Regions from separate parts of the Homo sapiens genome. Here region 1 is linked to region 2. A link means that fine-mapping ties the variant in region 2 to the expression of a gene that starts in the linked region. Tissue or cell type: sigmoid colon. Region 2 holds a variant in brackets; the other region holds the start of a gene. All regions are shown on one strand. Distances are between the middles of the regions.

Region 1 (8,095 bases), 910 kb after region 2:
TAAATTGATAATGGGGAAAAATACTCACGGGATAACATTTGATGATAAAAATAGGATGCAAACTTCTATAGACTTTTGGAAGTGAGGGACATGTCCATTACCTTGATGGTAGTGATGGTTTCACGGGTTTTATATATATGTTAACACTTATCAAATTGTACACTTTAAGTATGTGTAGTTTATTGTATATTAATCATAGCTCAATAAAAACGTTTTAAGAAAAGAACTGAAGGTGATAAATTTTTTTAAAGTTTTCTATACAGCATAATCTGAACTACATACATTATAAGATAAACAGACATGAAGTTAAAAAGCTTCTGCATAGCAAAGTAAACGATCAACAAAGTGAAGAGACAGCCCACAAATGGGAGAAAATATTTGTAAACTACCCATCTGACAAGGGATTAATAACCAGAATATACAAAGAACGCAAACAACTCTATAGGAAAAAAACTAATAATTCCATCAAAAGATGGGCAAAAGATACGAACAGACATTTCTCAAAAGAAGACATACGAATGGTAAACAGGCATATGGAAAGGCATTCAACGTCACTGGTCATCAGAGAAATGCAAATCAAAACTACGAGATATCATCTCACACCAGCTAAAATGGCTTTTATCCAAAAGACAGGCAATAACAAATGCTGGCGAGGTTGTGGAACCCCTGTATGCTGTTAGTGGGAATGTAAATTATAATAGTGCAATCACTATCGAGAACAGTTTGGAGGTTCCTCAAAAAACTAAAAATTGGTCAGGTGCGGTGGCTCATGCCTGTAATCTCAGCACTTTGGGACGTCGAGGTGGGAGGATCACCTGAGGCTAGGAGTTCGAGACCAGCCTGGCCAACATGGCGAAACCCCATCTCTACTAAAAATACCAAAATTAACTGGGTGTGGTGGTTTGTGCCTGTAATCCCAGCTACTCGGGAGGCTGAGGCAGGAGAATTACTAGAACTTGGGAGGCAGAGGTTGCAGTGAGCCAAGATCATGCCACTGCACTCCAGGCTGGGCAACAAGAGCAAAACTCCATCTCAAAAAAAAAAAAAAAAAAAAAAAAAAGGCCAGGCACACTGGCTCACGCCTGTAATCCCAGCACTTTGGGAGGCCGAGGTGGGCGGATCACGAGCTCAGGAGATCAAGACCATCCTGGCTAACACGGTGAAACCCCGTCTCTACTAAAAATGCAAAAAATTAGCTGGGCATGGTGGCGGGCACCTGCAGTCCCAGCTACTTGGGAGGCTGAGGCAGAAGAATGGCATGAACCTGGGAGGCGGAGCTTGCAGTGAGCTGAGATTGTGCCCCTGCACTCCAGCCTGGGCAACAGAGCAAGACTCCGTCTCAAAAAAAAAAATTTTTCAAAAAAAAAAAAACTAAACTAAAAATTGAGCTACCATATGATCCAGCAACCCCACTGCTGGGTATATACCTGAAAGAAGGGAAATCAGTATATCAAAGAGATATCTGCATTCCCATGTTTGTTGCAGCACTGTTCACAATAGCCAAGATTTGGAAGCAATCTAAGTGTCCATCAACAGATGAATAAATAAAGAAAACATGGTACATATACACAACGGAGTACTATTCGGCCATAAAAAAGAATGAGATCCTGTAATATGCAACAACATGGATGGAACTGGAGGTCATTATGTTAAATGAAATAAGCCAGGCAGAAAAAGACAAACATTGCATGTTATCACTTATTTGTGACAGCTAAAAATTAAAACAATTGAACTCATAGAGGCAAAGTACTGGATGGTTACCAGAGGCTTGGAAGGGTAGTATAGGGCTTGTGGGGAGATGGGGATGGCTAATGCGTACAAAAAAATTGAATTAATGAGACCTATCTGGTAGCAGAACAGAGTGACTATAGTAAATAATAATTGTACATTTAAAAATAACTAAAAGAGTATAACTAGATTGTTTATAAGACAAAAGATAAATGCTTGAGGGGATGGATACCCCATTTACCATGATGTGATTATTACGCATTGCATGCCTGTATCAAAGTATCTCATGTACCCTATAAATATATATACCTACTACATACCCACAAAAATTAAAAATTAAAAATGTAACACAAAGAAAGAAACAGAAAAGAATCACATTTGAATAGTCATGTTAAAATAACAAGATAGCAGGTGCTTTTCCTTCTTTTTTTAGAGACAGGGTCTTGCTCTGTCACCCAGGCTACAGTGCAGTGGCATGCAGAGGCCAACTCACTGCAGCCTCAACCTCCTAGGCTCAAGTGATCCTCCCACATCAGCCTCCCTAACAGCTGGGACTACAGGTGCACACCACCATGCCCAGGTAATTTCTGTATTTTATTGTAGAGATGGGGTCTTGCCATGTTGCTCAGGCTGGTCTTGAACTCCTGGACTCAAGCAATCTACCCACCTTGGCCTCCCAAAGTGCTGGGATTACAGGTGTGAACCACTGTGCCTGGCCCTCTAAGTTTCTGCTAAAATGTACTTGTAACTTTTATACTGACTACACTTAAAAGTATTAAACTTGTAAAGAAAAGGCCCTGGAGGAGTTTGTTCTTTACAAGGTCAGTCAGAAGCTACAAGGGGCCAGGCTGGGGCCAAGGTGAGGGCAGGTACATGCAGGGGCAGATGCTGGGTATGGAGTAGGTGCCAGGTGCTAGCTGGGCATGAATGTGCACCCGCTCCCTGACCTCTGCTCCCTGACTCTCAGAAGGAACTAGCACTGCCTGGAGACAGGAAGAAGCAGAGTACGGAAGGCAGACTCTCTGGCCAGAGATCTCGCAGCCAGGAGCACAGTGAGAACAGAGCCTAAGCCTATCTGTCCAGAGCCCAGGCTCCCTTTCCCTACAACTGCAGCCTCCTTATTCTGGTCTGGCCCAGCAGAGTGAGGAGGGGCCACCCACCCAGCCATACCTGCTGGTGGCTGCTGGGGGTGCATGTTCAGAAGAGGAAAAGATGCGGTTCAGGTAGTCATTCAGCAGCTTCTCCTGCACAATGCCTGAGCCACAAGTCAGAAGGGAGAAAAGGGCCACATGATCAGTGCAGCTCCTGGCCCCTGCTGGCCCCAGAGACTTCTGGTCCTAGGCCAGCCACAGGTGCAGCAAGGCCTGAGGCCTTTGTCCCTTCCTTCTCCTCCCAACAAGAGGAGCCTCCTTCCTTCCCTGCCAGCTCTTACCTGTGACCCTGGATTTCTCAGCATCTGAGGTCAGCCTATAGCTCTTGCGGGAGAAAGACATGCCGGCCCCCTTGGATGCCATCCTTCATCTCTCATGGGCAGCCAGTGGTCCTGGGGGCTGAGCCAGACACAGAGCCTGTCTACTCAGGGCCAGCCAGGGGCCCCCACACCTGACCTCAGTCCTGCCATGGCAGGAAGGCTTGGGAGCAGGTGAGGCCAGGGGCATGCACACTAACACATAGGGCAGGGGAATGCAGGGGCTCCCAGCTTCCTACACAGGGAGGGTAGCCAGGGTCTAGGCCCATGTAACAGGGACCACTTCTTGTTCTCCAGTGTCCCTGTGCCCAGCACAGGGCTGGGCAGAGAGCAGGTACTAGATATATTTTTGCCGAACCATAACAAAATGTCTCAGCTCTGTGGAAATCAGACCAAAATGTCCAAAGTGAGGTGTCCTAGGGGCAGAGCCCCTGTATCCATCTCAGTTGTAAGCCATACTGAGTCCAGCTCACAACCAGAAGCGACAATCCTACACATTCCCCCAAGTGCAGACCACCACTGGTCTGGTCATCTCTAGCCATAAGTCCCACTTACTCCCCACAAGGCTGGAGCCTCTTTCCTCAGCCCTGGGTTCCTCCCTTCTTTTATCCATGGTCCTGATAGTTTCACCATTCCCACTCACACATGTGGCCTCCCACCTCATCCAAGCACCACCCTTGCCCAGCCCTCATGGCAAACTCCATTGGTCCTCCTAGTGCATCTATCCCTCACATCATGTTGCTGCTGCAGCTGCTCCAGAACCTGCACTGAGTCCCTGGTGCTGGCCTCACTGATGTGTAGCGGTGCTGTCCAACACAGCAGCCGTCATCCACATGAGGTTACTTAAATTTAAAGTTTTAAAAATTAACAATTCGATTTCTCAGTTGCCTTAGCCACATTTCAAGAGTTCAATGACCACATGTGGCTAATGGTTACTCTGTTGGACAGCACAAAGGTAGAACGTTCCCACCATCATATAAAGTTCTATTAGACAGCGCAGGTCTAGAGTTTCGCTCTGCAGCACTGCCTTAGCCAGCACTCCCTACTCTGCAGTTCAGTCTCTTATCTCACCCCAAACAGACCCTCTACTCCCGCCACAAACCCTTGTGGGTCTGCACCACGCCTGCTCCTCGGGAAGGTGATTTTCCCGACCTCGGGCCCTCGGTGGGCGTCCATGATCGGTGCCCCTTCACTACCAGAGTAGTTGAAGATCTGATTAAACTCAGTCATTCATTTGATGAGCAGACCTTCCAGACACCCGGAGTGGGCTCCGGGAGTCAGTTGCTGAGGACCCAGGTGAGAGGCGGACCTTGTCCCCGCCCGGGGACTCCCTGTCACGGCTATCCCGTCCAACCCCGCCGGGGTATCCGGACTCAGAACTGAACCTACTCCGTCTGGGAGCCCAAGGACGGCGAGGGCGGCGCATGGCTCCCCCAAGTCGCCCCCGCCTGGCCCCAAGCTCCACAGGACCTGCCAGACCAGCTTCCGCTCGGAGTTTCGCACCCAGATCCCTGCGCTGCAGGTGCCCTCGCACTGGACTAGCCCGGACCGCGAAGGGAATAGCCGGAACCCGCCAGGCTCAGAGCCCTGCCGCCCCTCACTCACCCGGAGCCTCGGCCGCAGCGACCCGGCTCACAACATCCGCCCAACCTCTTGGCTACGGCGTCCGTTCAGGGCCAAATCACGCGCACGCTTGCGCGCTGAGCCTCCAGCCGCGCACGCGCACTGGCCCGCGCCCAGCCTCCGCTAGGGGACCCCCTCCATGGCTTCCCACCGGGTTGTTCCAGGCCTCAGCTTCGCCGAAAGGCCTCACCACCTCCGACCTCCGCCTGCTCTGGGGATGCTCCCAGCCCTGCTGCGGCAGAACGCGACATGCTAACCGGAATCCCTAGGCCGCCTGTCTCCTACCCATACTTAGAGGCCCCGCTCAGACGGTCCTTAAAACGTCTGAAAGGCCGTTCCTGCCAGAGTCCCTGCTACCTGTTACCTCCACCCCTATTTAGTCCTAGTGGACAGCCTCGCTCACCTTCCCTGGGATGACACTTCTGGCGGCTGAGATGAGCGAGCCTCTCTGGGCTCTGCCGCCGGGTGTGGGCTGACCTGCCTACAGCTGGGGCCTGATAAGGCAGCAGCAAAAGGGTGGAGGGGAGGCAGTGTTGAAGCTGGGGCAAGTAATTTTCCCCAATTTACAGGGAAAAACCGAAATTCAGAAAAGTTTAATGTCACCCAGGGGCTGGAGCCCAGACCTCTGGCAGCTCTCACTTTCACAATGCCCTTGGGCTGACTAGGCTGCAGAGGGGTTTCACCCCAACCCCAGGGCACCTCAAGTGTCCCCACCAAACCTTCCTAACACCTGTCCACTAAGCTGTACTAGGCCCTTGCAACTGACCTATGGGACCTGAGGCCTGGCCCCTCATGGCTCCTGTCACCAGGTCTCAGGTCAGGGTCCAGCAGGCCCTGAGCTGACGTGTGGAGCCAGAGCCACCCAATCCCGTAGGGACAGGTTTCACAACTTCCCGGATGGGGCTGTGGTGGGTCACAGTGCAGCCTCCAGCCAGAAGGATGGGGTGGCTCCCACTCCTGCTGCTTCTGACTCAATGCTTAGGGGTCCCTGGTAAGTGCCCCCAACCCTGATCCCCATCTGCCTTCAGGAGGGGGTTGGCCCCATTCTCCTATTCTAGGATGAGAAAAAAGTCGGGGAGCCAGAGGCTCAGTGGGCATGGGGCAGTGACCTTGCCCTCTTGAGCACAGCTGGGAAGCCCTAGGAACACATAGACATTGCCCACTTAGGCCTCTATTAGCACGTCTGCTCTAGCACTGAAGCAGTGTCAGGACCACACAGATGCACGCACACAGCAGGCAGTGACCCCTCCTGAGCCTGATCTACCCCTCTAACCTAGCATATGCCTTTGTGCAGGTGAGAGCCCAGATTTGGAGTCTGAATGCCTAGCCAGGGCCCCTGGCTGGGTAATGTGATGGCTCTGAGCCTTAGCATTCTCATTTGAGAGATGAGGTGGGGCAAGCTTCATCACCCACTGCTCTCACAGAGCGTATGTGTTAGATCTGAGCCCGGTGCCTGGGCCACTAAACAGAGGCACCGGTGATAACTACCAAGTCTGGGCCTGCTTCCCAGGGGAAATTTTTTTCACAAGTATCTGTGCAGGGGGCTAGACTGGCCCTTGAAAGTGCATACAGGGTCCATCCCAGAAGCCTTGTAGCTTTGATCCCCTGAATGAACAAAGTGTGGACATGCCAATACACATTACTGACATGTATGCCCACCTGACCTGCACCCACTCATGCCTACTCTGCAGGGCAGCGCTCGCCATTGAATGACTTCCAAGTGCTCCGGGGCACAGAGCTACAGCACCTGCTACATGCGGTGGTGCCCGGGCCTTGGCAGGAGGATGTGGCAGATGCTGAAGAGTGTGCTGGTCGCTGTGGGCCCTTAATGGACTGCCGGTGAGTGGCCACTGGGCCTAGATAAGACTGGGGGCAGGGAAGCCTGGGCTGTGGCGTTACCCTGTGCCTTCTTCTCTCCAGGGCCTTCCACTACAACGTGAGCAGCCATGGTTGCCAACTGCTGCCATGGACTCAACACTCGCCCCACACGAGGCTGCGGCGTTCTGGGCGCTGTGACCTCTTCCAGAAGAAAGGCAAGTGGGGGTGGAGAGGGGCAGGGTGGGAGACAGGGGACCTCAGCCCAAGTTGATCTTCTGTCTCTTGCTCCCAGACTACGTACGGACCTGCATCATGAACAATGGGGTTGGGTACCGGGGCACCATGGCCACGACCGTGGGTGGCCTGCCCTGCCAGGCTTGGAGCCACAAGTTCCCAAATGATCACAAGTGAGACAAACACCTTCCCTCCGTCCCGGCCTGGGGCCTTCCCCCAGCACACACTATAGTGATGCTCTGGGCCCTCAGGTACACGCCCACTCTCCGGAATGGCCTGGAAGAGAACTTCTGCCGTAACCCTGATGGCGACCCCGGAGGTCCTTGGTGCTACACAACAGACCCTGCTGTGCGCTTCCAGAGCTGCGGCATCAAATCCTGCCGGGAGGGTAAGCGGCGCCGGGTCAAGCTGGGAGAGTGGAGGGACAAGCCCACGTCCATCCACGAACCCACTGGCTCTTTGTCTCCAGCCGCGTGTGTCTGGTGCAATGGCGAGGAATACCGCGGCGCGGTAGACCGCACGGAGTCAGGGCGCGAGTGCCAGCGCTGGGATCTTCAGCACCCGCACCAGCACCCCTTCGAGCCGGGCAAGTACGCGTAGGCGGTATCGGCGTCCTGGGGGCCGGGCTAGGGAAGGTCCAGGACTCCAGGGGCAGGGCTCCGTGTAGGGCAATTGGGCGGGGCCAGATAAGCCAGAGTCCCAGGGTCTTGTTCACGCCCCATTACCGCCCCCAGGTTCCTCGACCAAGGTCTGGACGACAACTATTGCCGGAATCCTGACGGCTCCGAGCGGCCATGGTGCTACACTACGGATCCGCAGATCGAGCGAGAGTTCTGTGACCTCCCCCGCTGCGGTAGGCGGCGGGGACCAGGCCTGGGAGGGTACCTGGGAACCTTGGGGAGGGGCGTGGCTTGGCCGGGGAGGTAAGAGGGGCTGGGCGTGACCTGAGAGCATACCCCGTGGAGTACCGTACACCTGGGAAAGGCGGGTTTGGTCCCAGCCCCAGAGGGATCTCAGCTCTCGCTCGGGGCCCGACCTATCTCGGTCCATCTAAGGGTCCGAGGCACAGCCCCGCCAAGAGGCCACAACTGTCAGCTGCTTCCGCGGGAAGGGTGAGGGCTACCGGGGCACAGCCAATACCACCACTGCGGGCGTACCTTGCCAGCGTTGGGACGCGCAAATCCCGCATCAGCACCGATTTACGCCAGAAAAATACGCGTGCAA
Region 2 (8,101 bases):
GTGAAGTGGAAGGCGAGGGGCCGGGGGCCTAAAGGCCTAGAGGCCTGACTACGAAGGCAGGAAGACTCAGGGTCTGTGCATAGGACATCCCAGACTTCTCCAGCTCTCATAAAGGCCCTCTTCCTCCAGGAGAAGTAGGCCCTGTGCAAGCCTGGGCAGCCTTTGACACCAACCTGCTAGACCAGTTTTAAGATAAAGTAGACTTGAGCTTTGCCGGAAATTCAACAGCCTCTCATGGTGGATGTGTCCTCCCTATCCCTCCCTGGCTCCCGTGGACCACCCAAGGGGTCACTCCAAGAGTCACTCTGGGGCAGCAGGCTGGAGTTCCCACGTCTGAGACTCAAGCTAGAGGAGGTCCCTGGAGGTTTGATTTTGGTCAGAATGCAGACCTCAGAGTGGTTGGAGAGTGGCTGGGCCTGGATGCTGGGGAATGGGGAGTGAATGGAAACCGATGCTCATCTCTGAGCAGGAGGAGACACAGCAGGCCCAGGGAAGGGGAGCTTTTCTGATGTGGTCAAAGCTTCCTGCTCAGTGGAAAGAGAGTTGCTTCCATGGCCCGGGCCTCATTAAAACAGGCAGGGCCTCTGAGGGCTATGGGAACCTAGGATTGCCATGACTCCTCCAGGCAGCCCTCCAGGACTGTCTCACCCACACAGACCCTACTAGTGAGATGCTTGCGCTGGCACCGATGATGCCCTGATGACATGCCTGGTGGGGAGGGTGGTATCCAGCAAATGCTCCTCAGGCAGAGTCCTGCTCCAGGGACTCTCCCCACACCCAGCACCCATGAGCCAGATGGGGCCCTTCCTGTCACCAGAGCTGGGCTCCTCCACCAGAGGTGGGGATTGCACTCATAGTCCAGACTGGGCCAAAGCTCTGTTCTTCAAAGTGCCTCTCAGCCCTCAGCCTCCTCCCAGGAAGCACTTCACTGCTCCCACCCCCACCAGCCCCACATCAGTGACATCACTTGTGTGTGTGTGTGTGTGTGTGTGTGTGTGTGTGTGTGTGTGTGTGTGTGTGTGTGTGTGCGCGCGCACGCGCGCACGCATGCTTGTGCTGACCTTTCCACTTGGCCAACATTCCTTTGTTTTTCTCAGCTCCTTCCAGTGGATGGCTGTGGGAGGAGGAGCTGCTGGGAGAGTAGGTTCTCAGGAAACATTTCCCCCAAAGCCCCAGGGACACGGAGCCCACGAGACATGAGAAAATGAGGCTTAACCAGGAGGAGAGGTGTTCCAAGGGCAGTTTGAGGGGTGTGGGTGAGAGAAAAGGAGAGATCCTGGCAGAGATCACTGTTAACCCAGGTGTGTGCATGCCTGCGGGGGCGTGCTCCCGGGCATCCTTGCCAGATCAGCACCATCAGCCTGGCACCTAGTGGGCAAGCTGAGCTTATAAGGGCAGGCAAAGCTGGGTGGCCCTAGGAAGTTGCTGCATCTCGCCAGGACATATATGGCTCAAAGTAGGCCAGGGTCCTGGGTTTGCTGTTGTGGGATCAATTCACTTTCTCTCCTACCCAGAGGTGCCTGGTTGGGAGCTGTGGGCTTTGGGGGCAGGAGCACCTCCTCCCAGCACCTTGACAATCACCCCCTTTCTCTTCTGGGTCTCAGTGAGTAACTAGGGTGGGTGCTAGCTTCCAGAGGATCCCTGGGCCTTGTGTAGGGCAGAGAAGGCCTGGCGTGGGCACCCCCCACCCCCAGCCTGGGTGAGGTGTTTTCGCCAGAATTGCAGCAGCTGGGGCTGGAGGCCTCTTCCCAGGAAGAGCAGAGCGCCGCTTCCAAGAACTCAGAGGAGGCCGCAGGCGGGAGGGGGAGCGGGGGAGTTAATTTTAAACCACACTGCCTTCAACGCTTCTCAGGAACTGGTTGCTCAACGTGATCTGGCAGGTCCCAGGCGGCTGGGCAGGCCTGGTGCCAGCTCAGAAGTGGCGGGTGGAGGACACGCCCCAGGGGGAGGCCTGGTGACCTTGAGGGAAGTAGGGCCCTGTCCTTGACCACTTACCAGGGCCTGTCCCTCATTCACCCGACCCAACTTTGCTGGGGGGTGTGAGGTGGGGTAATTTATTCAGTTCTAACCAGGAAAGGTAAAATTATAACAGGATTAATAACACAAGTGTCATGGCCTTCCAAGGGCCCCAAGACGATCCCATCCCCCTTCCCTGCTCAGAACCTGCCTGTCCTGCACCCTGGCCTGTCCTCTGGAGGTTATCTGATGAGGGCCTATTCTGAGGGTAAGGCCTGTGCTGATTCTCTATGGGATGGGACCCTGGTGCCAGGCTAGTGGGGGGAGTAGAGTCGGGGGGTGGAGGGTGGCATGTGGCAAGCTGGTGGAAGTTCTGGACCAAGGGAATGAGCCTCCTTCTTGTGCAGGGAGAACTCATGGGCCCGCACCCCATGGTTGACTGCAGTCAAAGCACCTGCATTTCACCGACCTCCTGTTGGAGGTGTTGACCACCCTAGTGTGGCCAACCACTCCCGGCTGACAGCCTAGGCCCACCTCCCAATGTTTGGTCCATGGAATGTTCTACCTGCAGAGGCACCTCCCAGTGCACCCCCTTCCCCCACTACCCCCACTGGCTGCCCTCTGAGACCCCAGCAGTCTGGGCAGAGCAGGTCTCAAGTTCTAGGAAAGGATCCTAAGCAAATGCTGCCAAGAGCTGCAGTTCTTGGAACCAGCACTGCAGGGCGAGGGGACACTTCCTGGAACCTGCTGGCCCTTCCAGGGAGTGAGGCTCAGAGGACAGCCAGTGACCTGGGGTAAGTGGGGGGAGAGGGTACTGAGCCCTTAGCTTCGGTCTCTGCCTCCAGGAAGCCCTCCCTGACTGCAGGTGCCTCCTTAGACTCCTCCATCCCGGTGCTGGATCTGGCATGACCTCTGAAGTGCCCGGTGTCCAGCCTGGCAGAGTGGACGACGAGAAACAGGTGTTAGTAGAGAAAAAAAGGGCATGTGTACCTATGGAGGCAGCGTGTGGGTGTGGGTCCACAGTGAAAGCAGGAGGTTAGACAGGAGTGTCCTGCCTAGGCCAGTGAGCAGCCGGGGGTGTGAAGCACCAAGGGAGAGTAGGAGGGAAAACAAGGTGGGGTCAGCAGTGCCAGGCCCTGCTCACTGAGCCCCCTTTGCTGGTGGGCAGCCTCTGGCTCTAGTCACTCCTTCAGGACAGCCTTGTCTCACCCACACTTCCCTGTCCCACAGCAGGGGGCCCAGGCCCCAGCTTCAGCATCAAGCCACCCAGGACATGCATCTGGCCTTTTGGAAAATAGCCTGGAGAATGCAGAGGAGAGGCTGCAGTGAGTGGGCACTGACAACTGTCTGGGACTGGGTTGAAGTCTGGCCACATTTCAAGGGAATGGCCATGAGTGTTCCCATCACAGGATCCCAGGAGCAGCATTGTTAGAGCAGGGGCCTGGAAGTATGGCTGAGGGTGCTGAGTGAGCAGGTCAGGGTCACATAGCTGGGAGGCACTAGGACAACCTTTTAACCACTCATGACCCCTTTACCTTCAGAATGGAGAACCTCCCCTGGCCAAGGCTGGACGGGGTGTCGGCAAGAACTTGCCTCTCTCCTCCCACCCTCAGGTCACTCCTTGGCCCTCACTGAGCACAGCGCCAAGCGTGCTACCCATCCACCCCAATGTCACAGAGAAGATGGGGACAATGCTGGCGTTAAGAAGGGCTAGGACCCAGTGGGTGGGTGGCAGCTGTGAGGTGGGGCTATGGCAGAGAGGTCCTCCCTCCCCTGTAGGAGGGCAGTGGGGCAGCCCAAGGACACAGGTCATTGCTGTGCTTGTACTCTGCAGTGGCCAGTTCTCAGAAGCTACCTGGGGCAGCTGGCAGTGGGTGGGAGTGCTGCATTCTCTGTCACTTAGAGGCCTTGATGCCTGCACCCAGGTCAGGCTGGCTGTGGCTGGAAAGAACCTGCTGTGGATGAAGTTGACCTGGGACCCACGTGACCTGAGTGAAAAGAGCTATGGGTTTGCAGGGGACACCGGTGCCCTGCTGCAGGTGGTTCTAGAGCTAGGTATCCTGCATCGTGACTTGAGCAAGTCATGAACCCACTCTGAGCCTCAGTTTCCCACTCTGTTTTTGGTGTTTGGTTTGGTTTGGTTTTGAGACAGGGTCTCACCCTGTTGCCCAGGCTGGAGTCCAGTGGCACAATCTCGGCTCACTGCAGCCTCTACCTCCTGAGCTCAAGCGATCCTCCCACCTCAGTCTCCCAAGTAGCTGAGACTACAGGTGTGTGCCACCACACCCCACTAATTTTTTGTACAGATCTAGTTTCACCATGTTGCCCAGGCTGGTCTGAACTCCTGGGCTCAAGCAATTCTCCTCCCTCGGCCTCCCAAAGCACTGGGATTACAGGCGTGAGCCACTGCACCGGGCCTCCACCTCTACTTTGGGGACAATGTTATCACTTGCCTTATGGAATCGTTGTAAGGAGGAAATGTGTAGACTTGGTGATTTTTGTTTCTCCTCGGAGTCTTCCCCTGGATCCCAACTCACCCCTCCAGCTCCCACTTCACCATGAGCCCATGGAGACATGAGCCCCAGAAGAGCTCTTTCTCTGGTCTCTATTGCAGCAAGAAGTACCTGTGGGCACACTGGAGCATAGGCCTTGATGTTTGCAGTGCTCCAGGCAAAAGGACAAGTGGAGGCTCACATACCAGAATCTAAATATTAAACAACCATAAATCAAGCTGCTAATGAAATGTGTTCTATCCTCCTACTGAACAAATAAGCTTTCATAGGAGTAAAAACATCTGTAAATCTACAGTTTTTATATATCTGAAAGTCAGCAGATATCCAAAATGATGAAACTTAGTAATTATCACTCATGTCCAGGTGTTCAGTGACCTGAGGTTTAAGTGAGAGAATGAAGACTTGCCTGATGCCTAAGATATTCTGTATTTATTCTGTAACATTGATTCTCCTC[G/A]TCTTTAGTCTAGTAAAATGATTGATTATGTTGTTACAGTCAAGACTTCTACACTATTACTGTTCTTTTCATAGTAATGATTAAAAAGATTAAAATAAGGCTGGGCATGGTGGCTCACACATGTAATCCCAGAGCTTTGAGAAACCAAAGTGACAGGATTGCTTGAGGCAGGAGTTCAAGTTTACAGTAAGCTATGACTATACTACTGTACTCCAGACTGGGCAACAGAGCAAGACCCTGTCTATAAAAAAAATAATAATTTTTAAAAAGACTAAAATAAAATATTGGCCAGGTGTGGTGGCTCACACCTGTAATCCCAGCACTTTGGGAGGCCAAGGCAGGTGGATCACCTGAGGTCAGGAGTTCAAGACCAGCCTGGCCAACATGGTGAAACCTCATCTCTACTAAAAATACAAAAATTAGCCAGGCATGGTGGCACACACCTGTAATCCCAGCTACTTGGGAGGCTGAGGCAGGAGAATTTCTTGAACCCAGGAGGCAGAGGTTGCAGTGAGCCGAGATCCACACCATTGCACTCCAGCCTGGGTGACAAGAGTGAAACTCCATCTCAAAAAAATAAATTAATTAATTAAATAATGAAATAAAATATTACATTCAAAGAACACAAAAATATGTTAAATTAAATGAGATATGTCAAAATTTCAAAAGATGATATAGTCCAAAAAGTTATTGTTATTTTAAAATTAATTTAATTATTATTATTATTTTTTGAGACAGGGTCTCACTCTTTTGCCCAGGCTGAAGTGCAGTGGTGTAATCTTGGCTCTCTGTAGCCTTGACCTCCTGGGCTTAAGTGATCCTCCCACCTTAGCCTCCCAAGTAGCTGGTACTACAGATGTGTGCCACCACACTCCACTAATTTTTTTGTATTTTTTGTACAGATGGAGTTTTGCCATGTTTCCCAGGCTACTCTCAAACTCCTGGGCTCAAGGGATTCTCCTGCCTCAGCTTCTCAATGCGCTGGGACTTCAGATGTAAGCCACTGTGCCTGGCCTTAATTTTAATTATTTTTTTTGGCGGGGGGGTCTTGCTGTGTCACCCAGGCTAGAGCGCAGTGGTGTGATCATAGCTCAGTGACACCTCAAACTCCTGGGCTCAAGGGATCCTCCCACCTCGGCCTCCCCAAGTAGCTGGGACGACAGGCACCCACCAGCACACCTGGCTAATTTTTGTATTTTTTATAGAGATAGGGTTTCACCACATTGCTCAGGCTGGTCTTGAACTCCTGAGCTCAAGCGATCCACCCATTTCAGCCTCCCAAAGTGCTGAGATTACAGGCGTTAGCCACCACACCCAGCCTAAAAAGTTATTTTTAAAATAATCAAAATCACTTAGTAAAATTGAGGCAAAACAAACTATAAGTTATACTTGTATTAAAATTTAAATTAAGATTTAAAACTAAAATTTTACTTAACTTTTTGAAATTGTTATTAAATATTGCTAAATGTTTTTATGAAAAGAAATCTTAGCAGAGTGTGGTGGCTCACACTTGTAATCCCAGCACTTTGGGAGGCCAAAGTGGGAGGATCGCTTGAGTCCATGAGTTTGAGACCAATCTGGGCAACATAGTGAGACCCTTTCTCTACAAAAAATATTTTAAAAATTAGCCACACATGGCAGTGCATGTCTGTAGTTCAGCTACTTGGGAGGCTGAGGCCAAAGGATCACTTAAGCCCAGGATTTCGAGGCTGCAGTGAGCCATGATTGTGCCACTACACTCCAGCCTGGGTGACAGAGCAAAACTCTTCTCAAAAAGAAACAGAGAGAAGAAAAGAAATCTTCACTATTCACAGTTAAATTCTCTGTGAAGGCTGAAGTAGTGTTTGCTCTGCAGTTAGCAAAAGCACAACCTCCATGCATTGCCCTAGAACCTGAACGGTGCTATCATGACAGTGGGTGTTTGGGTTTGTCTCACACTGCATCAGCACTGAGTGTCAAATCAGTGGTTTGACAAAATGGGAATGCACATGAATTCTTTAATCAATTTATTGGAAATTGATCACTTGTATGTTTGTGATACACTCTAAGGAACAGGCCACAGGCAGATTAGAAGAGAGTGGTAACAGACAAAGCACAATTTCCAGTAAGTGATATTGGAGCAATTTGGAAGGAAAAAAAAGTGCAACGTCTACCTCACACCTTCCACCATAAATTCTAGATGGACCAAATATTAAACATTAAAAATGAAATTCTAAGAGTCCTTTAGAGCACCTGCCCTGGAGTCCCAGCAGTATCAATCCCAGGTGTGGAAACCTCTTCCTTTGCGTGGCTCCCCTGCGTTGTTTGCAGGAGAGGTCTGGAGGAAAGAGAGTCACCCCAGAAATACATCGATGCCTATATAGTGTTGTCTCTCTATCTTGGGTTTTTTCCTGCAGAAACCACTCTGAGACAAGCATCCAAATGCAAATAGATTATTTGGGAAGTAATGCCAAGAAGCACCAGTAAGGTATTGAGAGACAATTCCCCATGGTTCTCTCCTATTTCTGCACACTTGCCAGTAGAGGCACTGGTTGCCCTTGTTCTAAATAATCTTTACAAGGGTGATTATTATAGTGAGTAACCTTAGAAGATAGAGGTAGTATCTCCCTCCAGAGCAAAAGGCAGATTTTATTGTCCCGTATACTAAAGATAACATCTCCCACCTGGGCAGGTTTGCTTGCAGCTTATTATAAAAGACGTGGGTCCCCTAAATTCAGCATGCAGTTTCTCCACCGTAGTGCAACCCAATGCATATGCAGGCATCACCGGGCCATCATCACATCACTCTGTAGGAACTGCGGTTCAGGGAAGTGGTGCAAGAAAATGCTTTTACTCTGTCTACTGCCGTTACTGTAAACAATAATCTGTTGTCTGTTTCTGAACCCAGAGTTCTGTGCCTTCTGCCATGATCCTTGAGAATATGATAGACTATGATAGACTAACTTGTTTGCTTCAAAGTCGGATAAGCCGGGCGCGGTGGCTCACTCCTGTAATCCCAGCACTTTGGGAGGCCGAGGTGGGCAGACCATGAGGTCAAGAGATTGAGACCATCCTGGCCAACATGGTGAAACCCTGTTTCTACTAAAAATACAAAATAGCTGGGTGTGGTGGTGCGCACCTGTAGTCCCAGTACTCGGGAGCCTGAGGCAGGAGAATCGTTTGAACCTGGGAGGCAGAG

Evidence for each region. PIP is the estimated chance that this variant, and not a neighbour inherited with it, causes the effect.
Region 1: it holds the start of RNF123, and the variant in region 2 is fine-mapped to the expression of RNF123 in sigmoid colon (GTEx, PIP 0.97).

What each region holds. Positions count from the first base shown.
Region 1 is chr3:49,686,313-49,694,407 of GRCh38, reverse strand. It overlaps RNF123 (ring finger protein 123), which reads right to left and starts at 4,851. Exons shown (of 39, transcript NM_022064.5): 1 at 4,802-4,851; 2 at 3,161-3,278; 3 at 2,899-2,983. The coding sequence starts at 3,242. It overlaps MST1 (macrophage stimulating 1), which reads left to right and starts at 4,934. Exons shown (of 18, transcript NM_020998.4): 1 at 4,934-5,810; 2 at 6,511-6,658; 3 at 6,740-6,852; 4 at 6,930-7,044; 5 at 7,123-7,259; 6 at 7,341-7,461; 7 at 7,606-7,724; 8 at 7,927-8,095. The coding sequence starts at 5,717. RefSeq lists enhancers at 5,021-5,580, 7,097-7,810, 7,811-8,095 and a silencer at 7,423-7,542.
Region 2 is chr3:50,594,982-50,603,082 of GRCh38, reverse strand. It overlaps HEMK1 (HemK methyltransferase 1, mitochondrial release factors N(5)-glutamine), which reads right to left. Exons shown (of 11, transcript NM_016173.5): 11 at 6,917-8,101. Among named protein-coding and RNA genes, the nearest start is that of CISH, 13 kb to the left of the region's middle. RefSeq lists an enhancer at 356-4,036. The variant G/A (reference allele first, on the strand shown) is at 4,924.